Homo sapiens: one gene and its partners. The protein of the gene in region 4 purifies or fractionates together with the protein of the main gene of each other region. This does not show direct contact. Each region holds a gene or a part of one and is shown on either strand. Other genes may lie near its edges. The genes, in order: STEAP3, LTAP1, RDH14, MRAP2, MFAP3, FGFR2 and ACVR2A.

Region 1 (4,604 bases), on a different chromosome or scaffold from region 4:
TGGCAGGTGGGCCAGAGGCTGGGAGGCCTGGGCAGCAGAGAAAAGACCCCTAGCCTGGGAGCTAGAACCCCATTGGCTCCCACCTGTACCATTGACTGGCAGCTCACTTGAACAAGTCCCTGCCCCTCTGGCCCTCGGTTTCCTCAGCTGCTCAGTGAGGCCCTGCCCACTCCTGTGGCCTGTGACGCCGTCTGACTGCCCCACTTTTCTCCCGCAGGTGCCCATCTGCGGTGACCAGCCAGAAGCCAAGCGTGCTGTCTCGGAGATGGCGCTCGCCATGGGCTTCATGCCCGTGGACATGGGATCCCTGGCGTCAGCCTGGGAGGTGGAGGCCATGCCCCTGCGCCTCCTCCCGGCCTGGAAGGTGCCCACCCTGCTGGCCCTGGGGCTCTTCGTCTGCTTCTATGCCTACAACTTCGTCCGGGACGTTCTGCAGCCCTATGTGCAGGAAAGCCAGAACAAGTTCTTCAAGCTGCCCGTGTCCGTGGTCAACACCACACTGCCGTGCGTGGCCTACGTGCTGCTGTCACTCGTGTACTTGCCCGGCGTGCTGGCGGCTGCCCTGCAGCTGCGGCGCGGCACCAAGTACCAGCGCTTCCCCGACTGGCTGGACCACTGGCTACAGCACCGCAAGCAGATCGGGCTGCTCAGCTTCTTCTGCGCCGCCCTGCACGCCCTCTACAGCTTCTGCTTGCCGCTGCGCCGCGCCCACCGCTACGACCTGGTCAACCTGGCAGTCAAGCAGGTACCCACCCCATGCCCTTCCTCCCTCTGGCAACTCAGCACATGCTTGTCCAGCACCTCCCCCCCCCACCAACCAGGTGCAGCCGATACCCACGGGTGCAGCCTTACCAGGTGCCAACTGCAGATTCTGTTCCAATGGGGCAGCACCCACATCCTCCTGCCCAAGATTTTGAGTATCAGTGAACAAAGCAGATGAAAATTCCTGCCCCCATGGGTACAGCCCAGTTGGGGCAGACTTAAACAAAATACAGCAGTGAGTCATAGTGGGCGTTGAGAGGATCAGGAGTGCTAAGGCGCAAAGGAAAGCAAGCGTGGGCGGTGGGGGTGCAGGTTTGAAGATGGTCCAGGAGGACTTGCAGAGTGAGTGCTATGTGAGCAGAGCTGGAAGGAGGGGAGAGGGGCCGGTGGCCTGCTGGGGTGATGTTGCAGGCCACGGGGCATAGTCCTTGGGCAGAAGTGTGCCTGGTACGTTGGAGGAGCAGCCAGGAGGCCCATGTGGCTAAAGCTGAACAAGGAGGGGGTGGCAGGCGAGGCCTGAGAGGAAGAGCTTCAGCCTTAGGCTCCGAGTGAAATAGGGAGCTGGTGAAGGTTTGAATTTAGGTGTTGATCGGCCTGACATTTTAAGTGGTTCTCTCTGGTTTTTGGCTGAGAACAGACTGTAGGAGGTCAAAGGCAGCTAGCTGCTGGGGCCAGCGAGGAAGCCGTGCATATGCCCAGATTTGAGGCAGTGGAGGCTGGAGGCAGTGGGAGCAGTGGAGGAGCAAGGAGATCCTGAAGGCACATGTGAAGCTGGAGTGCATGGAATTGCCGCTGGAATGGCCCCAGGGTTTTGTGGGTGATCAGGGATGACTCTGGGGTTTGGGTCTGAGCACCTGAAAGAGAGAGTTGCCATCAGCTGAGATGGGGAAGGCTGCAGGAGTGAGCATTCCAGGTTTAGGTTTGTTGTTGTTGTTGTTGTTCTTTGTTTGTTTTACTGGGGGTGGCACTAATCATTCATTTAGAAAATTCATATGGGGCTTGGTTGCCAGCAGGGTTCCTGGGAAGTGGAGGACCTTCAGGCCACACCAGGTGGGGACCCAGGCATCAGCTGGCACCTGTGCCCACAGAAACAGGCCCCTGATGCTCCCTCCTGGTCCACAAGCTCATGGGGCTTGATTCTTAGTCCCAAGCTCACATCTTCAGCAACACTGTCTTTATTTTCTCCAAATTAATTCCACCTCCAGTGCCCAGCCCCGGGGCTGGTTGATGCATAGGTCCTGCCCACTCCAGGACGCTAGTCACCCAACAGGGTTCAGCCCAGGTGCTGGTGAGACACTTCTCATCCACCCCTCATTCCAGCCTGGCAGCCCCTGCAGCTCCTGCTCCTGCTCAGAATGCAGGGACCTTGGTGAGGCTGGGCCCTCCCCTAAACACCTAGCACAGGGCCATCCCCTCCGAGCATGGGGGATTGGCAGGACTGGGAAGCAGGGCTGGGCACCTCCTGAGAACCACAGACCTCAGCCCCTACTCACTGTCAGGGTTGCTGCTTCTCTGCCAGCAGCTACTCGACTGCCCTCGTCCTTTGCCACCCACAGATACCGGCATCATTGCATCTGTGGGCTCAGAATTTCCTAAGACAAAGGAAGAACCCCAGACTTCAGGCAGAAAAGCAAGATGCTTGATGGAAATGAGAGGAAGGGAAGAAATCAGTCATGAACCCTTAACAAGAGCTCGCTGTGTTCCAGGAACCATTCTAAGAGCTTCGTACACCACTGTGAATTCATTTAACCCCATCTCATCCCTGTAGGCCAGGTGCTATTATATCCTTATTTCATAGATGAGAAATCTGAGGCACAGAGGGGTCAAGTAACTTGGCCAAAGTCACACAGTCAGTAAGTAGCACAGCTGGGATTCAGATCCAGCTATTTTCCAGATCCATGCTTATACCCACGCTGCTTTCTACAGGCAAACCAAATTCACAATTGAGTAAATGATTTCAGAACTAGGTCATTCATTCACTCATTCACTGAGCACCTACTCTGCCAGGCCCTGGGGCCACAGAAAGGAGTAAGAAAGACACAGACCATCTGGCTCCTCGCCTCAGCTGGTGTGGGGCGGTGTGGAGGCCTGAAGGCTAGAGGCTGGACTCCTGCTCTCCAGCATCGCTGACTGGAACAAAGATCTTGACCTTGAGCAAGTCACAGCCCCTCTTTTGTCCTCGAGGCCCTGATGTGTAGATCAAGCTCTCTCCTAGTGCTAATGTTTTCAATGCTCTTTGACGATATTTTCTTACTGACTTCTACAAAGCACCAGCCCCTTGGCAGGAGGCTCTGCGGGGCTCCCTGGGGACTAGTACAATGTTGCTGCCCAGGACGGGGCAGATCTGCATGGAGGAGCCCACTCCCTCTCCCCTGAGCTGGCAGGTATTTCCAGCAGCAGTGGGAAAGACGGGGACGGTGCCCACTACCCCCCAGGGTAAAAGACACACCACTGCTCCCTCCCTCCCCTGCCACCCTTCAACTGCCTTTGTCTAAATTCTCTGCCCTGCCAAGGCTCTCCCTGATATTCTGTTAACCCAATTCTGCCCTGATGCAAATACCAGGGCACAGAGGGGCGCATGCAAGGTAATTTTCCCCGTGTCCCAAAAATCTTTAGGGCTGCAGGCCCTGGTGAGGTTGCCAGGCAACCATCCCTCCCGCAGGACGAGATCAGTCAGAGACACCGAAGGCCTCTCATGCAAAGGGGCTTAAACTTGTTCTGCAGAGTTCTTAAGGGCAAAACCAGGGCTGATGTGGTTATGTCGGGGTGGGTGGTCGGAGGGAGGCAGGGGCTTGACACACAGCAGCCCAGATACGGGGAGGTGCCCAAGCCTGGGCACATCCAAGCAGATTCTGGATGGTCCATGGTAAGCCATGCCCGCGGTTCTGGGCCTGGGCACCTGAGGCTGTTCTGCCTTCAGCCCCAAACAGCAGGGACTCCTGGGTGGCTCAGGCTTGATGTGTGGCTTCTGCTGCCAGCCCATGGGCACCTCACCACAGGGTCCCCACATGGCCACTCACCACCCCAACTGCCCACTAGGCCCTTGGGTCAAGGGAGCACATTAGTCTAGGCACAAGAAACTCCTCCAAGATTTCCTTACAGCCCTGAGTCTGCAGATTAGGAGGCAAAGGTGTATGCCAGCTGTAGAGAAAACCTTTGAGACCATGTTTACAGACAGTATTATTACCAACAATAACCGATATTTGTACAGGGCATTTGGATTTGCTTGTGTATTTCCCTGGAAATACACATTTCAACATCAAACTCAAAGATCAAGATCAAAGAAATGTTTAACCTGCACACTGTTCTCCTGTTACCTTCACCCCGTTCTCCTATTACCTTCACCCCAAGCTACATCTGCACATGGCTGGCACAGGATGGTCTGAAACTCTCATCTGACCATGTCACTGCTGAAAAGATCCAGTGACCCCAGTGTCCTTGGGATAATGGTAGAACCCTCACTATGCAGCTAGACTCCCTCCGCAGCCTCATCTCCCCTTCTCCTGTGACGTGTCAACACTTGGGTCCCATACTGTCCTCTAAATGGGCAGAGCTCATTCCTCTCGGCTTGGAACGCCCACCCCAGGACACCTTGACAGCTTGCAAACTCCTATTCCTCCTTCAAAACCCTACCTCTGTTAAGCTCCCCCAGACTATCCCCTTACTTCCCCATACCTGCCTCTGTAATCTGTTGCATTTTGTAAATACTTTTTTATTATTTTTCTTACACACTACTTCATACCCGACTCAGAGGTCCATGACTGGGTCTTCTACACCTTGGGGTCCATGGTTCCTAACACAGGTTCACAGTGCATGCTCACTGAGTGACTGATTTTTAAATT
Region 2 (3,289 bases), on a different chromosome or scaffold from region 4:
AAAAAAAAAAGTAGCAGAGAGGCTGGGCATGGTCACTTATACCTGTAATCCCAGCACTTCAGGAGGCAGAGGCCAGAGATCGCTTGAGCCCAGGGGAGTTTGAGACCAGTCTGGGAAACAAAGTGAGACCCTATCTCTGCAAAAAATTAGCCAGGTATGGTGGCAAGCACCTGTAGTCCTGGTTCCTCAGGAGGCTGAGGCAGGAGGATCGCTTGAACCCAGAATTCGAGGCTGCAGTGAGCCATGAATGTGCCACTGCACTCCAGTCTGGGCGACAGACTGAGACCCTGTCTCTCTCTCTCACACACACCCTAAAAAAGTAGCAGCACTCCAGCCTGGGTGACAGAATAAAGGCCCTGTTTGGGTACCCTGACACACACCTACTCATACCAAAAACAACTAGCAGCAGAGAAACCAATTTCCCAGAGTTCTTGCCTCTGGCTCAAGCTTTTTTTTCAGAGACAGGTATCCCCAATATAGGTATCACCTTGTTTTGCAGATTAGGAAACTAAGGGTCCAATAATTAGCTTGTATGAGGTCACAAAACTAGTTAAGTGACAGACCTGGGATTCAAACCTAAGTTTGTCAGATTTCAAAGCCTATACTCTTCACTAAACCCAATGAACATTCCTAGAAACTACAAATCAAACATAATTTTTTGTTTTTGAGATGGAGTCTTTTTCTCTGTTGCTCAGGCTGGAGTGCAGTGGCACAATCTTGGCTCACTGCAACCTCTGCCTCCTAGGTTGAAGCGACCTGTCTCGGCCTCCCGAGTAGCTGGGGATTGCAGGTGCATACCACAATGCCCAGCCAATTTTTCTATTTTTAGTAGAGACAGGGTTTCACCATGTTGGCCAGGCTGGTCTTGAACTCCTGACCTCAGGTGATCCACCCGCCTCAGCCTCCCAAAGTGCTGGGATTACAGCCGTGAGCCACCATGCCTGGCCTTCAGAAATAATTTTTAAAAAGATTGTGGTAAAATACATGTAACATAAAATTTACCATCTTAAGAATTTTTAAATGTATGGTTCAGTAGTGTTAAGTATATTCACAGTGTTGTGCAACCAACCTCCACATTTTCATCTTGCAAAACTGAAACTATACCCAGTGAACAACTCCCTATTTCCCCCACTCTCCAGCCCCTGCAACCATCATTCTACTTTCTGTCTCTGAGTTTGACTACCTAGGTATCTCATATAACTGGAATCATCTAGTATTTATCTTTCAAAGAAAGTGAATTTTGAACAGGCTTCTGCTGACTTCTAGACCAAATGCCCTTTTCCAGCCTTTCTACATGTTCATTTTCATCAGTGCTCTAAGCAGTTTTTTTTTTTTTTTTTTTTGAGACAGTGTCTCACTCTGTTGCCCAGGTTAGAGGGCAGTGGCATGATCTTGGCTCACTGCAACCTCTGCCTCCCAGGCACAAGTGGTACACGCACCTCAGCTCCTGAGTAGCTGGGACTACAGGTAGGTGGTCGCCACCACTCCCAGCTAATTTTTTTTCGAGATGGAGTCTTGCTCTGTTGCCCAGGCTGGAGTGCAGTGGCGCGATCTTGGCTCACTGCAAGCTCCGCCTCCTGGGTTCATGCCATTCTCCTGCCCCAGCCTCCCACGTAGCTGGGACTACAGGCACCCGCCACCACGCCCGGCTAATTTTTTTTTTTTTGTATTTTTAGTAGAGACTGGTTTTCACGTTAGCCAGGATGTTCCCGCTCTCCTGATTTCATGAACCGCCCGCCTCGGCCTCTCCAAGTGTTGGGATTACAGGCGTGAGCCACCACACCTGGCCTAATTTTTTTATTTTTAGTAGAGACAGGGTTACACTATGATGCCCAGGTTGGTCTCAATCTCCTGGGCTCAAGTAATCCACCCATCTCAGCCTCCCAAAGTGTTGGGATTACAAGTACGAACCACTGCAGCTGGCCTTCTAAGCAGTTTTTACTAGGACCTTTCATCTTTTCGAGACAGACTCTTGCTCTGTCACCCACGCTGGAGTGGCACAATCTCGGCTCACTGCAACCTCTGCTTCCTGGGTTCAAGCAATTCTCCTGCCTCAGCCTCTGGAATAGCTGGGATTACAGGCATGTGCCACCACACCAGGCTAATTTTTATATTTTTAGTAGAGATGAGGTTTTGTCATGTTGGCCAGGCTGGTCTCCAACTCCTGGCCTCAAGTGATCCGCCCACCTTGGCCTCCCAAAGTGCTGGGATTATAGACGTGAGCCACTGCTCCAGGCCTTGGCCCTTTCATCTTTTAAGACAACGTAGCTCATTTTTAGGGACAGAGAGAAGACAGGAGAGACATACCCCTTAAGCTCTTGAAAAAGAGCAATATTCAACATAGCAGAAAACAGATTATTTTTATGGCTGGTAACTAACTGTTTATTATTATTTTGAGATGGAGTCTCGCTCTGTCGCCTAGGCTGGAGTGGAATGGCACGATCTTGGCTCACTGCAACCTCCACCTCCCAGGTTCAAGCGATTCTCCTGCCTCACCTTCCTGAGTGGCTGGCATTACAGGTGCGCACATCATCATGCCCGGCTAATTTTTGTATTTTTGTAGAGATGGGGTTTCACCATGTTGGTTAAGCTGGTCTTGAACTCCTGACCTTAGATGATCCACCTGCCTCGGCCTCCCAGTGTTGGGATTACAGGTGTGAGCCACTGCGCCCGGCCTAAGTTTTTACTCTAGATTGGCTTTCCTTTCTCGCCAAGAACTTTGATTTTAACATTTGCATGAAAATACGAGACTATGTTTAGTGTGTATTAAAAACATTCCCAAACAAAAGCCATGAATCCTCTCCTGTGACACAAATGCTCAACAGCTGACTCTATAGCGATGGCCTTTGTTTCAGACATGGTTACTAATACTTTAAGTGGTAGTAAAAATAGATTTTTTTAATTTTTAATTTTTATTTTTTTTTTGAGACAGTCATGCTCTTGTCACCCCAGCTGAAGTGCAATGGCATGATATCGGCTCATTGCAACCTCCACCTCCCGGGTTCAAGTGATTTCTGCCTCAGCCTCCCGAGTAGCTGGTATTACAGGAGCCCGCCAGCATGCCCAGCTAATTTTTGTATTTTCAGTAAAGACGAGGTTTCACCATGTTGGCCAGGCTGGTCTTGAACTCCTGACCTTGTGATCCACCCTCCTCGGCCTCCCAAAGTGCTGGGATTATAGGCGTGAGCCACCGCGCCCGGCCAAAAATAGATGTTATTTAATTCTTTTTTTTTTTTTTTTTTTTTTTTTTTTTTTGAGATGGAGTCTTGCTCTGTCACCAGGCTGGAGT
Region 3 (4,535 bases), on a different chromosome or scaffold from region 4:
TGATGATACACTGTTTCTCCAATTCACAAGGCAATGCTCTAACAGAAAACAGACCTTCTGCATGATATGCCAAGATCCTGCCATTCTTGAAAATAACCGATACTCATAAGCTGATATTATAAATGGTCTTAAAAATAATAACCAAGAATTATCCCTGGGCTAAATAGTCATTAAATTCAGTGTAACTGTCTATACTTTAGTGTTATAATTCCTTTTTCCGATATGAGATAGTGAAACAAATAATTAAAATTAAGTAGATACTTTTGATGTTGTAACACAGATGCCTGCAATATTCCTATTTGGGCTCAATTATTCTTATGCATACCATTATTTACTGATTTTTTACTGTGTGCTGGGCACTATACTTGATTCTTGATGGAGGAAAGCTAATAATAAAATAAATCTCCTTTCCTTAGAGAATTTCTATTCTGATTATCTGACTGAACCTGTGAATGAATAATTAGTGCACTAAACTCCTAGTAAAAGTACCAAGATCAAGGGGGAAAAAAAAAGTAGGAAGAGAGAATTGTCTCTGCCTACGGGGGCTGGAGAAAGGAACACATTTGAAAGGAACCTGAAGGGTAAGTCGTATTTCCAAGGAAAAAGGAGATGGCATTCCAGACTGAAAGAACAATATAAAGAAAGGCCCAAAGCAAGTGAGTAGGTGACTGTTCTAAAATCAGGACTGGATTATCTGATGGGATGACCAGAGATGTACTGTCCAAGATACCAGTTGCTAGACATGTGCCTATTTAAATTAACATTACATATAATTAGAAATTCAGTTCTCAGTTGAATTTGAAGTACTTAATAATCCCATGTTTCTAGAGTCCATCACATCAGACAACACAGAGTATTCCTTTCCTCACTGCAAAGTTCTACTGAACAGTGCTGAGTATGAGAGTATAGGGTAAGCATGGTGCTGTCTCATGGAGCCTCAACTCTATCTTCAACAGTTTAATCTTTAGTCTAAATAAAAGTGGTTTATAAACCACTATATTCTATGAAATCCCTTTAGGAATTGCCGTGGGGGACTCCACCTTGGCAGCATTGCGATAACCTGCTTTACCCCCTCCAGCTTCTACGTTTCAGTGAAACACCGCTTTTGAAGAAAGAATTCTGCCAAATTTTTTTTTTTTTAAGGCTCAAAACCCACTGTTTTTTAAGCAGGAATGTGATAGATTTGGGTTTTAGGAATATTATCTCTCAGAGCAGTGTACAAGATACGTGGCAAGAAGAGACTGGGCAGACCAAGATCAGCATAGGCTAATGGTGACATGATAAAGGACTGTATTCAGTGAAGCCTCCAAAGAAATGCACAGTTAAGAATTTGTACCAGTAAATTTATTCCAAGTAAGACTTGTGTGCACACACCAGGCAGATAATTTCCACACAAACACCAAACATTGTAGTAAAACTAGTTAACACTTTGGCCATGAAACTCAAAGATACTTGAAAAACCTCTCGATAGCACTTTGAGTCACTTAATTCTGACAAATATTAATATGTCATCCATGCTTGCCCAGTTATAATTTTACAATATAATTGTATTTTTCATTGTACTTATTATTCATTATACTTACTATATATATTTAAAACATCTTTGCTGAAATTCTCTTATCCCAAAAATAATTTTTCAGTAACTCCAAAATACCCACATGTACCTCTTAGCAGGCTATTCCAATATCAAAATTCTTTTTCTTCAAGTAACAAGTTCTCAATCCACACCATTCCTGATCACAGATATAACTGATATGCAGTTTTATAAACAGCTCTTTTACTCCTTGTTCCTATTTTAGCAGGCCAACCATCACTTCACTGATATCCCAGAGTTTTCTTGCAACAGATTCATCCATAGCTTTGGGCAACAGTTCTTCCTCTTTACAATCCCCAAAGTATCTTCCTGACACTCCTTCTACCTCAGGTGAAGAGGCCAAATAAATGGAAGTCTGGGCACCTTCTACTGGAGTTTTGAAAAAAGCCCATGACACCAAATTGAAGAGTGGTTTGACCAACAGTGGAATGTGTATGTGCCTCCCCAGATTTGTCCGTACAATACCAGGATGCAACACATTGACGGTGACATTTGTGCCTTCTAAGCGGCGGGCTAGTTCCCTGGTAAAAAGAATGTTAGCCAGTTTGCTCCGGCTATAACAAAAGCTTTTATTATAGCTTTGTTCACTGTTCAAGTCATCAAAATTGATGTCTCCGTATTTATAAAGTTTGGAAGAAACTACCACAATCCTGCTGGGAGCTGAACTTTTGAGGAGTCCAAGGAGAAGATTGGTGAGTAGAAAGTGCCCCAGATGGTTCACTCCGAACTGCATCTCAAACCCATCTTCAGTCTTCATGTAAGGGCACTGGAAGATCCCTGCGTTATTGATCAAGACATCCAGCCTAGGCTCTTCCTTTAAATGTCAAAAAGAGAATGGCAGAATTATTAAGAACACACGCCTTGTATTGCTTTTTCTGTTCATGATAATTACATTTTAATAAAAATGGGCACTTGAGACTAAAAGCATTTAATTTCAGTTGTTGGTCTATCGATCAGAGAACTACTTGAAACACTGGCAATTTTGTGTTTAATAAATGGGGAAAGGGATTCCTCCGCAGGATGTTCCTCAGATAAATACTGATGTTCATGATCTTTCATTCAACAGCTCTTTTTTCTCATTTATTAAAATGATATACAGAAAGATATTTATCTACAGTCATCTTCCAATAAAAGATGTAGAAACTAAATCTAAGACTTAATTTCTGGTTTTATGCTTTTATAACAATAACATTTACAAATATATAAACTTTAACATTGCATTAGAAAGTTGACTACGTGATCAGTACCAAGATCTTTCTCAAAACAGAAATACAGTCAATTTGAGGACAAGGCACTCCTACAATCCCATATTTCTCCCTTTAATTTCAGTTGAACTAGGAAAATATCAATTTGGGAGTTATCAGGTTAATACTGAGATCATATCAAAATTATAAGTGTACCTATGATAAAATGTTTAAAAATACTTGCAAACTACTAAAATTCTATCCCAAAATGCTTCTATGAGCTTCCAATAATTGAGAGAAAAATAGAAAAAAAAATAGATGCAGAAGCTTGATAGGAGCCAGGCTTTGTGCTTTTCGCATGTCACCACATCTAATTCCAACAACTGTATAAGCAAATGAAGCTCACAGGCTAGGTGACTTGCCCAGTATCAGAACTCCTAAGTAGCAAAATAAGATCAGATCTGAAGATGAAGTCTTTGACACCAAGGCCTATTTTCTTAATTAGTAAGCTGGCATGGCTTTCTAATTGGGATTTTCAAAACAGCTAGAGAGGCAATGAAAGCTAGACAGACCATATGCTGTAGAAAACAGGTAAGCATAGTTTATTCCCAGAGCTACTGGTTATCAACACCAAGGGCAAACTTATGGTTGCTTTATTCTGTAGTTCTCTCAGGGTAAATGGCACCATGGGGGTGGAACAACTTCAAGTCATTTCCTTAAAAGTGAAACAAGCAATAGAAAAGGTCAGAAATGCAAACTTAACACTGGAGAGAACATCATGAATAAATCGAGATTCATAAAGAATAATCAAAGATTAAGAAAAAAATAATCAGGTAATATAAAAATATCCAGCGTAAAGGGGACTCTAGGAGATCTGTACAGTCAACATTTTATACTCTGAACTTATGCTTCTGTATCTTTCCAAATTAAAGTCCTAAAATTTAGACTGTTCTCATAGGGAAGTCTTTTTATTCCTTAAATCATGTAAGATGGTCTTCTCTAGCCTTTTCTCGGTTGTTCTGTTTCTTTTGATGGACAAAGAAATGCACATGTTCCAAGTGTAAAGACACTGTGATGACCCATGATTAATATGAGGTCAACTTTCAAATTTCACTGGCCCTTCTGCCAACTATAAGTGAAAAGAAAAATGTGTTACATTTCACAACTGTTATCGAAGCCCACCTGTCAGAGGATTAACTATTTCTCATTCTGCCCTGTCTAAGCATCTTTGGGTTTTCCAATAGTCAACTTCAAAAAGAAGGCAAGAGTTCACTCATGGGGGAAAGAAAGGAGTATTCTTTTTCACAAATCCTTTGGAAGATTTTCCTGAATTAATCATTTGTTATCCAGCATTCTTTGCTGGGCTTGTGTTATTTTAAAATTTTGTCATTTACTATTTTTTTAAATTCTACGAGATAAATGAAATAAATACCAAGAATACCAACCTGTGGGAAATCTACATTTCCATTTTTTTTTCCTTCTAATTATAGTCACTTAACTTCAGAGCCAGGCAGGAACAGAAATACTTACTTAGAAGCAAGGACAACTTAATTATCTCTTTGTGTCCTCACTTTTTAATTAGTTCTGCCTCAAGTGCCAAAGAAGCAAACCCAGCCCCATCTATATTTTAAAGAGGAACAGAAAGATCCATCTTTAATGCTTCCAAAATCTCACTGATGAGTATTATTTCTTAACCTGTGTTACACATAATTAAATACTAGCAATAAACAAAAAACCAACTCTCTAGTTCTGCAACA
Region 4 (4,604 bases):
ACACTATCTACTAAGCCTCAACTAATTTCCATAATTGATGTGTTGTCTCCCTCCTTTGAACCCAATAACATTTTTGTCTGTAATTCCCTAAACAGGGCTCTCCTTGGTCCTATCTTGGATAACAATCACAATTCTTTATCTCTAGGACCAGGGTTAGATTGGATTGTCTACAGAACTTGGTACTTGCACAATAAGGCCTCAAATCTAGGACACAACAGAGTTGAATCATTCTACATTTTTTGGCCTACACTAAGAAGCTTGTCTATGTGGAAATACAATGAGGATGCTTAGCAATTTTCTAAAAATAAGTGATTAGAGCTTAAATATTAAATGTGTTTAAATGCAAAGCTTTATTCTAATTAAATTATGTATATGTAGCACTTTTTCCAAAGTGAAGAAATCAGATTAACAATTTACTCTGCATAATTCATACTTTCATCCTACATATACTATTGCCTAGAGGTTAACAATGTGTATTCAGCACTCTGAAAAACTAATGTGTCTAACCTTAAGTGCCAAAGAAATAGAAATTGTATACTTTGCCTTTTAATATAGTAGAAATGAGGCATAAAAAAAGACATAAGGGCCAGGCGCAGTGGCTCACGCCTGTAATCCCAGCACTTTGGGAGGCCGAGGCGGGCAGATCACGAGGTCAGGAGATCAAAACCATCCTGGCTAAGACAGTGAAACCCCGTCTCTACTAAAAATACAAAAAAAAAAAAAAAAAAAATTAGCCGGGTGTGGTGGCAGGCGCCTGTAGTCCCAGCTACTCGGGAGGCTGAGGCAGGAGAATGGCGTGAACCCGGCAGGTGGAGCTTGCAGTGAGCCAAGATCGCGCCACAGCACTGCAGCCTGGGTGACAGAGCAAGACTCCGTCTCAAAAAAAAAAAAAGATGTAAGGACAAATACCAAACACCACATGTACTGAGGTACAACTAACATGAAACAATTAAATCTCAACTATCTAGGCATGGACTGTGAAGAAACATTGTACAGATAAATAACAGTTCCCTACACTGTACTTTATCAACTGCCTGCATAGCAAAAGCAAATTCTAAAATTATACACCAATGCTATATTTAAGTCTTCGGTTTAGAATTGAATCATGTTGATTGACATTTTTCAAATCTGTGTATTAGGAAGGTGTTCTCCTAAGGACAGCTTTCACACTGCAAATGGTGGACTGACTCCCAGAGGTGGAGGAAAGCGTGCCCTCAACCCAGCCCAGTCCCCCTTCCCTCTGCCCTTCTAAGTACCCCCAGGGAGATAATCAAAAAGCAGCAATAATGTGAAGCATGGGAGGGTTACAGCCTTCAGAGAAGGCAGGTGGCGGCAGAGTTGGGGAGAGGCAGGCTGTGGGTAAAATCTGAGAATCCTCATGATCCAACAGCATTTCCAAACATTTCCTTAATAATGCGGCATCTATGTTTTTCATGGCAATATGCTTTAAGTAGCTCTGCTTATTCACATTTCCCTTTGAACAAAATTTAGCTTCCTCAAGTTATTTCCACTAATTTCCCCCAACCTCATCTTCTGCCCTATGACCCATCCCCAGGGGATTTTCTCACCCTGAGCCTCTTACAAGAAACATCAGAGATCCCCATCTCATCCCAGAAATATCCAAACTCTCCTGAAGTTTTATTCACATGTAAGTTTCATGGGCATAGGCACTACAGTAAGATGGGAAAAGTGGAGCCCGTTGTCTTCCCAAAAGCATCCTTTTCTGGGAAGAAGTCAGAATAAAGCTTTATACAGAGCAAAGCTCCAATGAGGCTAGATGGTTAAGAAAGTCAAAAGAAGCCTTCCAAACGAGTTTCCACCACCGCCAAGCTACCACACTCTGTCCTGTCTAGACACTGAGCTACTTAGAGACTACTATTGTAAAGGGGTAGAACAATTGCCCAGGGGAATTGCAAATGGAATGCGTCAGAATAAAGTAACCCCCCTTAACCTAACCTTTAATGAATGGAATGGAACAAGAGAGCTGAAAGTTGACATGATTTTTTTCCTTCCCAATCTAGGGTAGGACTAGGTTAACTACTCCATCCGACTCACCCTCCTCTCCACCTCCTGAGAATAAATGGTGAACTTTCCACTTCGTGGTTATATGAAAAACAAGGGTTAATACTTCACTTGAAAGAGAGGTTCATGACACTTTCCTCACACCACTTTTTGTTCCTAAGGCAGTAGGGCCAATTCTGTGATATGAATTCCTGGCAAAGAGCCAACAGTGATGTTCCCACACTTGTCTCTACTATCTTACTCCAAGCCTTTGCAAACTCTAGCTGTTTCTCATCCTAATGACCTGGCTTCTTGCTGACCCATCCATGCATGGGTCTGGTATCTGCAAGGTGGCACACGAAAAAGCATGAATTTGGCCACCACTGATAGCTCAAATTAAGAGGCTATTCCTTTAGTCTTTTCTCAACACAGCGGCCAGAGTGGTCCTGCTAAAATGTGATTGTCCACTCATTGACTCATCAGCTTTTGCTTCTGATGCTTTAAGAACACCCTGTCTCACCCAGCCACACTCTTCATAAATGACCCATTCCTCTCCTTCCCTTTATAGTGAGACACTTGAGAGATTTGTCTGTACATGCTGTCCCCAATTCCTCTCCTCTCATTTTTTCTTGAACCAATTCCATCAACCTTTTACCCCCAGCATTCCACTAAAACTGCTTTTCAAATCATTGCCAGTAACTTCTACATTATAAATCCAATGGTCAAATCTCAGTCTTCAATTAACTTGACCTAATAGCAGCATTTGACACAGACTGTCTTTGCAACCCTTTTTTCAGTTGGCGTCCAAAAAACCACAATTGTCCAGTTTTCTTCCTACTTTCTGTACATTCCTCTCAGGCACCTATGCTGCTATGCAACCCTCCAACTTCTAAACACAAGCGTGCCCAGGGCTCAGCATTGGACTCTTCAGTTTTCTGTCTACACTCACTTATCCAGCCTCTTGGCTTTGAACGCATACCGTTTACATGCTGATGACTCTCAAGTCTACGGCTTCCCCCGACACCTCTCCTCCCTTGTCCTCCTGGATATGTGATAGATGTCTCAATTTAACAGGTCCAAAACAGAGCTCCTGGGGTTCCTCTCTGAAACCTCCTTCTCCCATACTCTTCCCCCTCTCAGTTAAAGGCAATTCCATCCTGCCAGTTACTCAGGTCATAAATCTTCAAATCATTCTTGACTCTTCTTTCTCTTACACATACCGCCAATCCATTGACAAATCTTGCCAGATCCATCTTTTAAAAATATCCAGAATGTATGCATTTCTCACCACTTCACTCTCCCTACCTGGCTCCAAGCCACCATCATCAGCTGCCTGGACTATGGCAAAAGCCTCCTGAATGGTCTCTGCTTCTAATCTCATGCCTTTCACTCCGCAGTTGCAGAGTGATCTGTTGAAACCTAAGCCAGATGGCACTCCTCTGCTCCAGACCCTCCAGTGACTTCTCAGAGTAAAAGGCCAAACAAAGTCCTTAGCATGACCTCTAAGGCCCCCCCATGTCCTTGTCCCCACAGCCTCTTTGACTTCGTTTCCTGCTGTTCTGCCTCTTATCACTCCCCTGGTACCACGCTGGCCTCCTTGCATGATCCAGTTCACTCCCGCCAAGGATCCTTTTCTGGGATGTTCTTCCCCCAGATATATTATAGCTCAATCTCTCACTTCCTTCAGGTCTTTTATCAAATCTCTCCTTCTCAGTAAGGCTTTCGATGGCAATTCTATACTGTCGCCTCCACACTCCACATCCCTTTACCCCCACTCTATTTATCCTTTTATATTGCCATCTGACATTATCTATTTAACTATTTATTGTCTGTCTCTCCCACTAGAATGCAAGCTCTATACAAGGAAATATTTCTGTCTTTTCAGTTCACTGTTGTCTCTCCAGTGCTTAAAATAGTACTGCACATAACAGGTGCTCAATAAATATATATTGAATGAATGAATAAATAAATAGGTTTCCACTTTGTTGGTGCCAAATCTGTATCAGATACATGTCCACTTCTGATACATGATAAGGTTTAATATTGGATTCAAAACTGATGGCAAAAGAATTCTCAAGCACCATCTGAGGTTGCTTCTCAGATGAAACACCCTTTGAAGGTAGGAATCTTAATTTCAGCAGAGGAACTCAGTCTAAAGATGGAGCTATTGTTGCCAAGTGTGATCCATTACAGGTAAGGCAAATAAAGATAACTGTTATGGTCATTCCTGTCCGCAATGAGTGCTTCCCCTTGAAATGTCCTGCTTCTGTTCTTTTGAATCTGCATCTAATTAGCTTTGAATTTTGCCCAGCAAAACAAGGAGTCATACTTGAAGGTCAGAGTCACAGCATTTTTAAATGAAAGAGACTGTACCAGAGCACACATTTCAACAGTTGACTTGATCTTTTCACTTTCCTGTATATCTGGGGTTTTGTGTTTGTTTATTTTTTGTTCTCAATGTGTCGCATATATTTTCAGGTTCCTGAAGCTAAGGGCTGCTACTTATCAGCTCTCTTATATCAGAACAGTAAGTGCTCAGGCATTTTTGTTTTATCTTGACGTGAATATTAAAATTAACAAAAGCAATTGTTATTAATGGTATA
Region 5 (4,604 bases), on a different chromosome or scaffold from region 4:
TTAATTGGCTCCCTGGGTGTTTCTGAGGCATTGGATTCATGTACTGCATCTAAGGGCCACTAATACAGTTCCTCAATTTCCTCTGCAACTGACCTGCAGAATGGTGCTTCAGGCTATTTGAATATTTCCAATGAGAGATATAATCACTCACATTCCATTCTAGATTTAGATTACTCTAGATCAGCAAAATTGAAGGTCTCTAATAAGAGCAGGGTAGCAGAGAGGTTCAGAGTATAGGATTCAAATACGATCTGTGACTCTAACCAGCCTTGCAACTTTTATAAATGACTTAATCTCCCTGCCTCAGCCCCTCATCTTTAAAATGGGCAAAATAACAGAATCTATTCTCACAGGATTATTGCAAAGTCTGAATGAGGTAGTATACATAAAACACAGAGTCTGGCAATGGTAATCACTGAATAAGCTCTATTATTATTGTTCATGGTTCTTTCAGATATTGAACTAAAATTTACATTTGATAGTTACATCATTATAAAACACTCAGAATACCATGCAACCATTTAAAAATCTTGGGGGTTGGGGGGAAGGGGACACCATTATGCAGTTTTAATCTTAAATTTAAAATTTCACATTTTTCTTTTTCTCATTGCAAATATTTTGCAATATTATGGAGCATATAGGCATTGTAAACTGAGCTTGGATCCCAACCATGATATGACATTGTATGTGTCCTCAGTTTGTGGTAGAGAAGATTTGTCGTGATCTACTTACCCAACGGCTCCCCTCTTTGAGCCCTATCCCTATCTTCTTGGGTCTAGGAGGAAGACAACCTATTGGCAAAGTAAGCTAATAGAATCTTTGTTCTTGGAACTTGGAATTGAGACCCTTGTGGGTCAGGGTCATTTGAGGAAAAGGAGGCATGTGGGGGCTGAGGCAGTCAGGTTTGGGCCACATACAAGGAGAAGCTGTAAGAAAGGACAAGAGGGATGGGGAAGGGAGAGAGTGGGAAGACAGGAAGAGGAGCAGGAGAAAGACAAAGAGAGACTCATACATGGTGCTTTGGTGCCTGATAGAATTCTACTTCCTGGCACTCCTGTGACCCTTTTTTTTTTTTAAAAAAAGAAACAACTTTATTAAATTTTACTCAAAATTAAAACCACAAAAGTGAAGATGAATGTGCAAACACGTAATAAATGCGGAAATGGTTAGGCAGGAGAAAAAAGATTAAGTTCACAAAAAGTTATTGAACTGTGTCTGTGGCTGCCAGGCAATCTTCATCATAGATCTCTAGTCTCTTCCTTACACAGTGGAGTGTGGCAAGCAAACTGCCCATGTGGCCAAGATTTGTGGTTCTTGTGTTGTACAGACATAGCCATTTGCCTCTACCTACCAGACAGGATTTAGGAAAACACTATAAACTCCCTTAAACTGCTCTTAGGCCAAACATGGCAGAAGAAACCTGGCACACTGATTTTGAGCCACAAGAGAAAGAGGCTGCACAATAGCCTTACACATCCAGTTAATACTGGGCACTTCACTCATACCATGTACATCCTGAACACAGAGGACTTCTGATTTGAAAGACTAACGGATATAACCCATTTGCAGGTAACAGGCTGTTCAGCAGCTGTGAGAGAAAACACTGGCAAAGATACGTGTCCAAGAAGGTGACAAAGCAGAAAAAAATAGTGAGGGAAGAACAAATCATCCTTGGTATCAGGGTACTATTATTTCCTCACACTAAGTCTCCTTTTTGCTAAGTCAGCTTGAATGGGTTTCTGCTACTTGCAGCACAAACTGCATTGACTATGACCATTCTGCTCATTCTAGACTAATGACTTTAAAACTACAGCTCAGCTAGGTCAAGGATCCATCGTGGAAGATGAAGTACAGTAGGTGGTGCAAGAGTTGCTAAGGAGAATTAGGACACTGTCCTAGACCCTCAGGAATTTACAAACCAGCTTGAAAGACAGCCCAGAAACAGCCAACTGTATCTAAGACAATGTGACTGAAATGTAATTATATTGTGAATGCAACAGAGAAAAGACAAATGTGTCAGTTCTAGGAATGCAATTCACTTATATGTTTGGGACTTCCTATAATATTAGGCCTGCATGCTTTGAACATATGATCCTTTATACTATAGTTATTTTACTTTCATTTCCAATCCTTTAATTTTTCCTCACATATACAGCCTCAGATGCAGAATTGTTCACCAAATCAGTTAAGTGGGCTGAGGTCATTAAGGCAGGTATATTAGATGCCATGGGAGACACAAGAGTACGTGCATTTGTATTTGGAAAAAAAAATATATATATATATATTATGCCTGCTGTTTTTAATGTAGCAGCTGACATTTGAAACCCAAGAACAGATTTCAAAAAGGAAAACCAAAGTGTCACCTTCTTCTTATCAGTTAAAAAGGGCTATACTATGTTTGTGGATGAAGTTACTTGATAAAATTTTTTATTACCTTTCCTTTTTGTGTGTGTGTGTGTGTGTGACGGAGTTTCGCTCTTGTTGCCCAGGCTGGAGCGCAATGGTGAGATCTCGGCTCACTGCAACCTCCACCCCCCAGGTTCAAGCGATTCTCCCACCTCAGCCTCGCAAGTAACTGGGATTACAGGCATGCACCACCACGCCTGGCTAATTTTTTGTATTTTTAGTAGAGACGGGGTTTCTCCATGTTGGACAGGCTGATCTTGAACTCCCAACCTCAGGTGATCTGGCTGCCTCGGCCTCCCAAAGTGCTGGGATTACAGGCGTGAGCCACCGCGCCCAGCCTATATTACCTTTCTTCAGCATTAATAAATAAAAATGTAATAGATAAGTGTAAGACTCAAGTTTAATCCAACTCCTTTTTCATCTTTCAGGTATACAGAATGTAAGCTTTGCTAGGATCATAAAGAATCAGAAATGTGGATGATTTTACCCCAGAAAACCATGTTGAATATTGACTATATTATTTTTAAAAAAGAGAAGAGCCTATAGCTGTCACCCCTAACAGATTGTCTTGTTGCCGTTCCTGCCAACTTCTGAGGGAAGAAATATTTCCATTCTGTTCCAATTTTCAACACAAATAAGGAAGTAATATGGCTGATTTCCGTTCTGGTGACTCAATATTAAGTTGGCTGAGGAAACTGATGTTTGCAGAAATAGTTCTGGGAAAATGCAAAGCAGGGAAACACATTGATGCCCAGGTGGTATTTTTTTTTTTTAAACTCCAATTATATTGGGATATTAGTGCTTCATTCTCTATAATCAAATGTGTTCTAGGCTGCATTTACAGCTCATCCACCCTTCTCTGCCTGCACTGTCACACTTGGAAAACGGACCAGTTCCTACAGCAGGCACACAAATTGACAAAGCAGCATTCTGAATCGGCAAAGGGGAGAAAAAGCAAATGAAGAGCAGGTTGTTAGCACTACCCTACCCTTTGCAAAGAATAAACACAAAGTTGTTCTGCCTAGACTCAAGCATTATTATAGGGATCTGTAACTAAAAAAGGTTAGTGACATTCAAACAGAAATCACTATCCTGAGGGCCATTTACTCAAAAGTTTCTAATTAAAATAGCCTTTATATTACTACCTTGGAGCTATCACATACCCCATAACTAGCATTTGGTCAGTCTGAGCTCAAACTTCAACATATCTTCTGGCACCTGGAGAAACATCGTCTGTATTTATCAGAGCTTTGCTTTAAACCCAGGATTATTTCAGTTATACCCATAACTTATATCCTTTTTGCCATAGGTATATTTGCTGAATAGCTACTGGATGCAAATGACAAAAACATCAATGAAACAGGCTTAGATTTATGATCTTCCCAGGCCATTTTTCCCCCTCTATAGTCTGAAACATCTCTATTTGAAACTCAGTCTAGTTAAAACAGAACTCCTCTTACCCTCAGATCTACTTGTTCAGCTTATGAACAGCTTAGATAATAGCCAGACAATTCTTCCAGTTTTGCAGTATCAAAATTGTAAGACAATCATGGCTCAGTGGTTAGGAGAATGGGCTCTAGAGTTAAGGTGCCTGATCCTACCCCTGGGTGAAGCCATAGGCTTGCAAGGCCTTAGTTTTCACATTTATTAAATAAAATAATATTAACAGTAACTGCATCATAGGGTAGTTTTGAGGATAAGATGAACTAATGTGGGTAAATTATAAATATATGCTATTGTTATTATTCCACCTCCTACACATTTTTCAATTAAGTCCTGTTGTCTCTGTCCTAACTCATATCCTTTTATCTCACCTGGGTATACCACACTATCCCCTTAATTTCAGAATGGATCTCCTTAACTCCTTTTACCTCTATGATGTATCCAAACACTGTGACACTCAGAATTGGTCCTAAACACAAATCTGAGCAATTCAGGGTAATTTTACAATCTACTGGTGATTTCTCACTGCCCATGAGATAAGCTTAAAATTCCAATTTGGCATTGTAATTCTCCAAGAATAGATTCAGGCAGCAGAACAGAAAGTCATGAGAAGCCCAGAGGTGCCTCTATGTACGATAATTGCTTGCAGGAGGAATGAATGGATTTAAACATTAAGTCTGGTCTTTAGTTTTACCTCTATCACAAATTAGCTATGATGTGCTCCAGTGGTTTTAGTTTCCTCACCTAGAGGCTGA
Region 6 (3,910 bases), on a different chromosome or scaffold from region 4:
GGAAGAGAAGAGTTTTATTTCAAACACAAACTCTTGAGATGTGGGTATTGGACGTGGGACAGGACAGGAGACCCCTAGAAGGTGAACAGAGACCCAGCCCACCTGACTTCCACGAAGACCTCCCTGAGACCACGTCTGATGTACCCCAGGCTGTCCTTAGCTTTTCTCTTGGAATCCATCATAAATCAACTATTGACAGGTAGAGAACAATAAAACCTAGTTGAGCTATAGGTGCTGGGCAGGCAACTCGGCTTCACACGGACCTAAATAACCCGCTGAGTCTACACCACCTCCTCACTAGAGCCCTTGCTTCAAATGCGAGCCCCAGCAAAATGAAAACCGGTAACATGTTGTGGGTCCCCAGACCCCCTTTAAGTAGTTGAGACTATGAATATTTATTTTCTGAATTACATTTTACTATTGTAGTTTCGGGGATAATTGAAGGGGAATACTTCTTCATTCAGTGGGTAATTTAACAGATGTAACTGATTACTCTCAGAAGCTCTCCGAGTTGAAAATGTAAACAGGTTCAAAAAAGGCTTAGACATACTCATGTATGTTAAATCCATAATGCACTGTTAAAGGAAACTTCAGGAAAATATCGGTTAAGTTTCAAAGTTTTGAAGGTTCGAGATTCAGAAAGTGTCCTTTGCTCCCCAAGGCATCCAGTGCTGGTGCTGCAAAAAGCCCTCTGGATCACCCCAGGGTGACACTTCCTCCGACTTGGGTGCCCACAGACGACTTTGTATGGCCTGAGGGCTAAAGATGGTCTTTAACATTGGTAAGCGGTTGAAAAAAAAAATCAAAAGAAGAAGAATATCTTATAGGATTAAAATGAATAAAATTTATATACAATTATATAAAATTCCAATTTCAGGATCCATAAAATTTTACTAGAAGACAGACTAGAACACATCTATTTACATATTGTCTGTGGCTACTTTGAGGCTACAGTGGCGAAGTTGCAACAGAGACCACAGGGCCGGCAAAGCTGAAAATATTTACTCCCTGGCCCTTTACAGAAAGCAGTTGCCGACCCCTGTTCTGAAGCTATGAAAAGCTTTCTAAATTGGGAACTTGTGGGTCTCTCTGCCTCCACTGGGCTGGCACAGTGGGGCAGTTCTGCTCACACATCCAGAAGCCAACAACTATTCTATGACATGTGGTTTTGCTGAGAGGGGGCAAAAAGTGCAGACCACAGCACAAACAGCCTCAGTGTTATCAGAAAAGAGCCCATGGAATGTTGGCAACTAGACATTTTTAAAGACACACACACACACACACACACACACACACACAAAACCCTCTAATTCATCACCAGGGTTGGCAAGAGAAAGAGTCCCCATCCCAGCATCCCAGAAGGGGAATGTATCAGTTCCAACAACATCAGCATTAACCACACAACTGGAAACAAACACGCCCACCACATCAAAAGAGAACTTTTTGCTTACAATGATAAAAACGAAATTTTGTCCTAAATGGAACCGTTTTTCTTGAGCATATGGTAATGATTTTCAGAAGGAAAGAAACTTCGATTTTTATATCCACCAGACAATATGGCATTCTGCTTTTTTATTTTAGGGTACTAGATACAAATTTCAGTATCAACGGACCCACTCTACATGTAAATATATAAATAAATCACTTTGAGCATAGACATGAGATCATTAAAATAGAACTTTAGTGCTTTTCCCGGTTTCTTTCTTTTTTATTTTTATTTTTTTTTTTTTTGAGACGGAGTCTCGCTCTGTCGCCAAGGCTGGAATGCAATGGCATGATCTCGGCTCACTGCAACCTCCGCCTCCCCGGTTCAAGTGACTCTCCTGCCTCAGCCTCCCGGAGTAGCTGGGATTACAGGTGCACACCAACACGCCCGGCTAATTTTTTGTATCTTTAGTAGAGACAGGGTTTCACCATGTTGGCCAGGCTGGTCTGGAACTCCTGACCTCATGATCCGCCTGCCTCGGCCTCCCAAAGTGCTGGGATTACAGGCATGAGCCACTGCGCCTGACCAACTTTTCCCAGTTTCTCAATGAAGCCATAAACTTTCAGATCTGATAGGAAAAAAACAGGGATATCAGTAGATTCCAAGTCTACAGTTAAAGGAACTTATACTAGAAACAACAATTTTGGCAGAAGAAGAAAGTTGGTTTCTTCCCCCCCTTGAACCGTTCCTTTCCTTTCAACTTCTGAAGGTCAGCTGTATTCATTTAAGTGCAATCTCTTCCTTTATCCAGCACAGGCCACAGTCAGACGCATAAGATAAAGCTGCTGAGCTAAGACTTCATATCACTACATTTGATTATTACTTTTTAAAAAATCACTCTAAAACTATTTCCTAAATCAGAAATTAAGTGTATTATTTTCCTTCTAAAATACTTGGGGGACTTTAACTTTTTTCTTGTTGAGACAATTGCATGGTTTGGAGTTAGTTTCCTGTGTAAAAGAACACTATTGTGCATCCTCATTAAATATCTCAAAATACATTCATTAACAATTTCTCTATCTTAAGATTTGACTAGACTTGATGGGTTTATCATCTTTCCTGCTCAGAGCATATGCTTTCCATAATTATAAAAGGCACTCTATCTGCATATTGAAGGAGCCACTGACATGGCTAAATTTGCACAGTGAGTGACAGACGAGTGTTTATTTTGTTGGCAAGGATCATAAATTATTATTATTTTCTTTTTGAGATGAAGTCTTGCTCTGTCTCCCAGACTGGAGTGCAGTGGCGCAATCTCAGTCACTGCAAACTTCACCTCCTGGGTTCAAGCGATTCCCCTACCTCGCCTCCTAAGTAGCTGGGATTACAGGCACATACCACCACATCCAACTAATTTTTGTATTTTTAGTAGAGACAGGGTTTCGCCATGTTGGCCAGGCTGCTCTCGAACTCCTGGCCTCAGGTGATCTGCCCTCCTCGGCTTCCCAAAATGCTGGGATTACAGGCGAGAGCATAAATATTTTAGGGAAAATAAATATTTTAACAAAAGGTACATGTTTTTATGTAAAAATCATGTAAGTTGCTCATTGTAGAAAACAGTGTATGTTTATATACACCTAGAAAGAGGCTGCAAGGCATATAGCATTACCAACAGGATCACATAGGATAGTACTGTGGTAACAGAAGCTGGTGTTAGAAAACTTCATTGTATTCCATCAAGCAAATGATGACGAACATTATCAGTTTACCCACTAATGACCAAAGCACAGAATCAAACTTGCACAGGAATCCAAGCTTTTTCCCATGCACACCAAAATGCAAGTGAATACTGCTTCCCCTTTCCCACTCTCCCACATACCCCGGACTGCTCCACCAGCAGCTACACTGAAGGCAGCCTCGGGGATGTCCCTCTGTCTTTGGTTTCATGAGTCAGAACTCACAAAATGAAGTTCTGAGAAAAATCATGATTTGAGAGGAACCCATAGTTGAACTATCTGACCCTATGGAAAAAGAATAAACAAGACCACAGACTCCAACCAACAGCCAACAGGGGAGTGTGTGTGTAAAACACTACGCATGTCTCACAAGACAACCAAGGACAAGGGGCTTCTAGAAGGAAGTTCTTACCTCATTGGTTGTGAGAGTGAGAATTCGATCCAAGTCTTCTACCAACTGCTTGAACGTTGGTCTCTGGGAGGGCACTGCATGCCAACAGTCCCTCATCATCATGTACCTGGGAAAAATGGATTTCCTTGAATTAATTTCATATGCACTGGGTACGTGGTTATAGTCAGTTTTAATAGGCAATATGGGGACGTGGTGTAAATTAGGAAAATGCATCAGAACCTTCCAAGCAACTAGATTAGGGGGTCATGAATCACTTTCCCAAAAGCTTCCCTGCCAGTTCCTCCGAAAGGCACTTTGACTTACAAAAACATGTTAGAAAGGCATCGAAGCCATCAA
Region 7 (4,604 bases), on a different chromosome or scaffold from region 4:
TAGTACACAGTAAACTTTTAAAACTCCTGAGTGGCACCAGTGAGCTGAGTGATGCCTAAAGAAAGCACTAACTGTCTTTGAGGCATTAGAAGAAGAGAGAAAAAGAAAGGCAGAGAGGATGCATTGATCTGGGATCACATACCATTTCCAAGTGTCTGAGGTGCCACCCAGTGTCATCATATCAGTTGCTTTTGCCACAGAAATTTTAGTTCCTCCTCAAAATACTCATTATGCAGCCCTCCAAACCCTTCTGTTGCTTTTCTCTGGAAGCTTTCCAAAAGGCTTCCTGCATCTTGCTTTAGTTGCAGATAGGGAACTGAGAGAATGCTTTCAATGGAGGGTTGCATTCTGCTTTGATAGGATTTCCTTGTGATTTGTAGATGCTGTATTCCTATTTATATATTATGTTTGCTCTATTTTTAAAAAACTATAGCAGTGCACGTTTCTTTCATTTACCATATCCTGTTATCTACTATGATGACCACTTCTTTTCTGGATTTTTATTCGTACTTCTTTGCCAGTCAGTCAGTTCCAGAACACAAATGATTTTTTATCTCAGATCAAAGGGATGAATTGTTAATATGTTTAAAATTAGAATGAACCAGTTTGGTTAAAGAAATATTTACTTACATATTTCCTGTATGTGCTTTGTATTTGATATACCTATCTGCAATGTGTTTAAGAATGACTGCCGGTATCTCTGAGATTAATGAAGAAAAAATTTAAACAGTCACTGGAGAAAGTAATAGATCTTCAGGAGAGGTTTTTGCTGATATATAGTCATAATTTGCTGTTTCTGGCACTTTTCAAATCATCCTCCTCGAAGTACACACTGGATGAAACAAATGAAATATTGTTAGGAGTATTTCGTAGTTCACAGAAAATCTTAGTGGGGAATATTACTGAGACTGATCAGAAAGATTTTAGATCTTCTCTCCTGTGGTACATATATAGCAATAATGCTGAACATTATTATGAAACTCTGAATTCAGGTTGCCTGCCTTGTGATCACTATAGATAATTAGTAATCTAATTATGGCAACATTGAAGTTAATGTCATTCATATGTGTTTACTGTTTCTGTCAGTTGACTTTTCAGTATACTCACTTTTTTTCTCATTTTCAGAGTTGGTGTGTGTCATGTTCTGCTTATTTATAGTATTATTATTATTTATCTGTAGGACCCAGGACCACCCCCACCTTCTCCATTACTAGGTTTGAAACCACTGCAGTTATTAGAAGTGAAAGCAAGGGGAAGATTTGGTTGTGTCTGGAAAGCCCAGTTGCTTAACGAATATGTGGCTGTCAAAATATTTCCAATACAGGTATGTTTATTGCAGTTTTGTCATCTTACATACATGTTTTATGGCTAGGTCATCATAACTCAGAAATAGTCTCAAAACAGAAGCCATATGTACCAAGGTGGTTCTTTGTGATACTGGGGAAAGCAGTTAGCTCTTTTAATGCCTGCCTTTGCATCTGAGAAATGGAATTGTTAATATAACAATCATTATGTTTGTCTGGAGTGGTGGAATTAAATGAATGCATAGTAGATCTTTTGCCAGTGAAAATTCTAATAGAAATGTTAAATAAAGATAAAGATTCCAATAAACAAGTCTAATTGAGTGGTTAAATTTTAATATCCCCCTACGTTGTCAGAGAAAGCAAACAAAAAAACAAAAGAGCAGTATACTTTGTTTTAGAATTGGTATTTAGAGGTATATCACCAGACTTGACTTACTTTCATTCTACTTTGAGTGTTTAATTATTTCAGTTTTTGTTTGATGCATTTTCAGAGGCAATCGAGACTTCAAATAATTGGTTTACTGTTGAATTGTTTTTAAGGTTGGCTGGACTTCTCATAAAACTCTGATCTAATGTACCTCTGAGCTATTCTTGTGTTTTGTTTTGTTCCGTTGGTGGTATAGATTTATGATGATTCTGTCTTCCCCATCTCTTGCTTATATACCCTGGCAGCTCATGATACCCTTGGTACTGACGTCTTGGCTGGATTTGGTGTTGCAGGCTCTACCACCATACTTAGAGAGTGGATGTTTCTTTTTCCAAAGTTATCATATAAGCAGTTTCTTTGTCTTAATATACCTAGATTTTAACCTTTTTACCTCCTCTGTTCAATCTTACCTCCTCTGTTCAGTCTATAAACTGTTTACATAGAGTTTATGAACTGTATTACATTTTTTTTTGGTAGCTGTAAACCACAGTTTAGTTTTCAGAGAGAAAGTGTATTCTGTTGTGCCAAGATTCATAAATAAGATAAGGGAAGAAATTATTTCCATGTGTAAGGAAGCATAAAGCTCAGAGAAAGGCATTTGGATGATATTAACAAGCCCGACAACAGCAACAACAGTAGCTAACATTTTATTGTATGCTTTTATTGGGTCAGGTAGGGGTGTTTTACATATATGAGTACTCACTAATATGTGTACGTATATTACCCACATGTACATAAAATGCAACATATAATACAACAATTCTATAAGACAGACACTACAATGCCTTTTCTACTTAATGAGGACACTGAAGGATTATGTAACTTGCCAGAGGTTAGTGGGAGAGCCAGGATTTAAGTTTGGACAGTTTGGATGCAGAGAGTTTCTAAGGGTTTCTAACCATTATGCCATAGTGCCTCTTACTATTATTGTCTTTTAGTAGTGAAAAGAAGCTAATCTTTTATAAGTAGATACTTAGTAGACATGGATTGCTTGCAGGCACAAGTGAATATATGGTGTCTTAAATTATTGCATTGCATATCTTTGCCCCTTGCTTTCTCATAGACCTTGTAGGGTATGCTAAACATTTTTTGAAGGATGTTTGATATTATGTTAGTTTTTGAAAAGAAGAAGTTTTCTATTTAGAGGAAGTCATTCTGCCGGAATTTCATCTTTCAAGGAGATTATTCTGAATAGTACCACAAGTAACTTCACACCATGATGAAATTACAGTGTAATACTTGCAGTAACTTACGTGTTGCCATTGTAAGACACAGAATGCAGCATTTCCGATCACCTTCTGTGTTTGTAAACTAGAAACACAGAAAAGTACGTTTTGAGGGAATGAAAAGGGCAGGCATTTAGTATAAATTTGTTAACCTATTGTCAGAGCTTTTTCTTATTACAAAACAGAACAAAAAATTTTTTAAGACTTTTTTGTTTTGTTTTGTTTTACTTTGGAACTTATTTGAGTAATCTCTTATGCATGGTTTATTAAACCTGTATTCCTTGTGTTCTTACTATTCTTTCTTTTTGACTCTAGGACAAACAGTCATGGCAAAATGAATACGAAGTCTACAGTTTGCCTGGAATGAAGCATGAGAACATATTACAGTTCATTGGTGCAGAAAAACGAGGCACCAGTGTTGATGTGGATCTTTGGCTGATCACAGCATTTCATGAAAAGGTAAAACTACTTAACGTTTTACTTTAGTAAAGTCTGAGTTGGCCTGCCTACCTAATGCTGGCTATAAATCCCTCAGAGTTATTTTTCGAGACATCTTATAGTTGATTAATATTTAACCTGAAAATAAAAATCATTCTTGAATAAAAATGTTTTAAAAGGTAGTTTATTTTAATAAAAGAGCAAAGATGGCAACTTTTTAACCTAAAACTCTACTCATATAAACCACCCTTTTGTTCCTTATTTCTTGTGCTGTAATTACTCTTACAAACATTTATTTTAGTGTAGGTAATGCTTAGTAATTTTCATTTACCATTTACAATTCATTTTGATTACGTGAACCATTTTTTTAAGTTTTAATCAGTCTTGCTTGTGACAAAACCAGAGTCAGGAAATTTATCTGATCTTTGATCTGTCACTAACTTGCAGGGTAATTATCACCAAAATGTAATTGCTAGTTTTCCTCAATTTTTCTACTTTTAGAGTCAGTGTGAAAGTACCATTAATGAAGTAGGAAATTATGTTTTTGGTAATTGGTTTCATCATTGTGAAATGTAAGTGGTTCTTTTACTTCTCTTATCTTGACCTAAAGGACAACAATAATCTAGAGGAATATTCTACATATTAGTTGTTATTTTATGTTGTTATTTTGTGTTCTGCTAGTCCCATGATATAACAACTCTATAGTCAGGATATTTTAACTTTTAAAATATTTTCTAGAACCTTAGATTTTCAACTAGTCTTTAAAAAAAAAAAAAAACAAACTTGTCTTATAGATTGGTGGAAGTTGACTATTCTTGTAACAAAAGTTTAAAGCTCTGGTATTTCCTTCTGGTCAAATGTTTATTAATGTGAAATGGAAGGAAATTTGAACCATTTGAACCATTCCAGAAAGATTGTTTCTTGGATATTATTTTTCCCTGAAAGGGAAACTCACAACCTCTTATAGGTAAAAAGAAAAGTCTCCTTATACATATGGCCTTTGTCAAGAACATAAGTTTCTTTTTTTCCCTCTTTTTTTAGGGTTCACTATCAGACTTTCTTAAGGCTAATGTGGTCTCTTGGAATGAACTGTGTCATATTGCAGAAACCATGGCTAGAGGATTGGCATATTTACATGAGGATATACCTGGCCTAAAAGATGGCCACAAACCTGCCATATCTCACAGGTAGACTAAATTTATATTGTTT

Evidence for each region.
Region 1: the proteins of MRAP2 (region 4) and STEAP3 purify together in Homo sapiens (affinity purification with mass spectrometry; 2 studies listed by BioGRID and IntAct, with this or other methods). This does not show direct contact.
Region 2: the proteins of MRAP2 (region 4) and LTAP1 purify together in Homo sapiens (affinity purification with mass spectrometry; 2 studies listed by BioGRID and IntAct, with this or other methods). This does not show direct contact.
Region 3: the proteins of MRAP2 (region 4) and RDH14 purify together in Homo sapiens (co-immunoprecipitation; 3 studies listed by BioGRID and IntAct, with this or other methods). This does not show direct contact.
Region 5: the proteins of MRAP2 (region 4) and MFAP3 purify together in Homo sapiens (affinity purification with mass spectrometry; 2 studies listed by BioGRID and IntAct, with this or other methods). This does not show direct contact.
Region 6: the proteins of MRAP2 (region 4) and FGFR2 purify together in Homo sapiens (affinity purification with mass spectrometry; 2 studies listed by BioGRID and IntAct, with this or other methods). This does not show direct contact.
Region 7: the proteins of MRAP2 (region 4) and ACVR2A purify together in Homo sapiens (affinity purification with mass spectrometry; 2 studies listed by BioGRID and IntAct, with this or other methods). This does not show direct contact.

What each region holds. Positions count from the first base shown.
Region 1 is NC_000002.12:119,247,462-119,252,065, forward strand, and holds part of STEAP3 (metalloreductase STEAP3), read left to right. Parts: intron 1-217; coding exon 218-745; intron 746-852; exon of another isoform or gene 853-1,610; intron 1,611-4,604.
Region 2 is NC_000001.11:154,208,101-154,211,389, forward strand, and holds part of LTAP1 (protein C1orf43), read right to left. Parts: intron 1-3,289. UniProt on the Homo sapiens protein: General regulator of phagocytosis. Required to uptake Gram negative bacterium by macrophages.
Region 3 is NC_000002.12:18,553,401-18,557,935, forward strand, and holds the end of RDH14 (retinol dehydrogenase 14), read right to left. Parts: intron 2,409-4,535; coding exon 1,791-2,408; 3' UTR 1,323-1,790; downstream 1-1,322. Other genes in the region: NT5C1B-RDH14 protein, read right to left, coding at 1,791-2,408. UniProt on the Homo sapiens protein: Retinol dehydrogenase with a clear preference for NADP. Displays high activity towards 9-cis, 11-cis and all-trans-retinol. Shows a very weak activity towards 13-cis-retinol. Has no activity towards steroid.
Region 4 is NC_000006.12:84,056,979-84,061,582, reverse strand, and holds part of MRAP2 (melanocortin-2 receptor accessory protein 2), read right to left. Parts: intron 1-4,604. UniProt on the Homo sapiens protein: Modulator of melanocortin receptor 4 (MC4R), a receptor involved in energy homeostasis. Plays a central role in the control of energy homeostasis and body weight regulation by increasing ligand-sensitivity of MC4R and MC4R-mediated generation of cAMP.
Region 5 is NC_000005.10:154,041,409-154,046,012, reverse strand, and holds part of MFAP3 (microfibril-associated glycoprotein 3 isoform 1 precursor), read right to left. Parts: intron 1-4,604. UniProt on the Homo sapiens protein: Component of the elastin-associated microfibrils.
Region 6 is NC_000010.11:121,480,124-121,484,033, forward strand, and holds part of FGFR2 (fibroblast growth factor receptor 2 isoform 1 precursor), read right to left. Parts: intron 3,681-3,910; coding exon 3,575-3,680; intron 2,055-3,574; coding exon of another isoform or gene 2,049-2,054; exon of another isoform or gene 1,701-2,048; intron 1-1,700. UniProt on the Homo sapiens protein: Tyrosine-protein kinase that acts as a cell-surface receptor for fibroblast growth factors and plays an essential role in the regulation of cell proliferation, differentiation, migration and apoptosis, and in the regulation of embryonic development.
Region 7 is NC_000002.12:147,914,011-147,918,614, forward strand, and holds part of ACVR2A (activin receptor type-2A isoform 1 precursor), read left to right. Parts: intron 1-1,180; coding exon 1,181-1,324; intron 1,325-3,272; coding exon 3,273-3,416; intron 3,417-4,436; coding exon 4,437-4,582; intron 4,583-4,604. UniProt on the Homo sapiens protein: On ligand binding, forms a receptor complex consisting of two type II and two type I transmembrane serine/threonine kinases.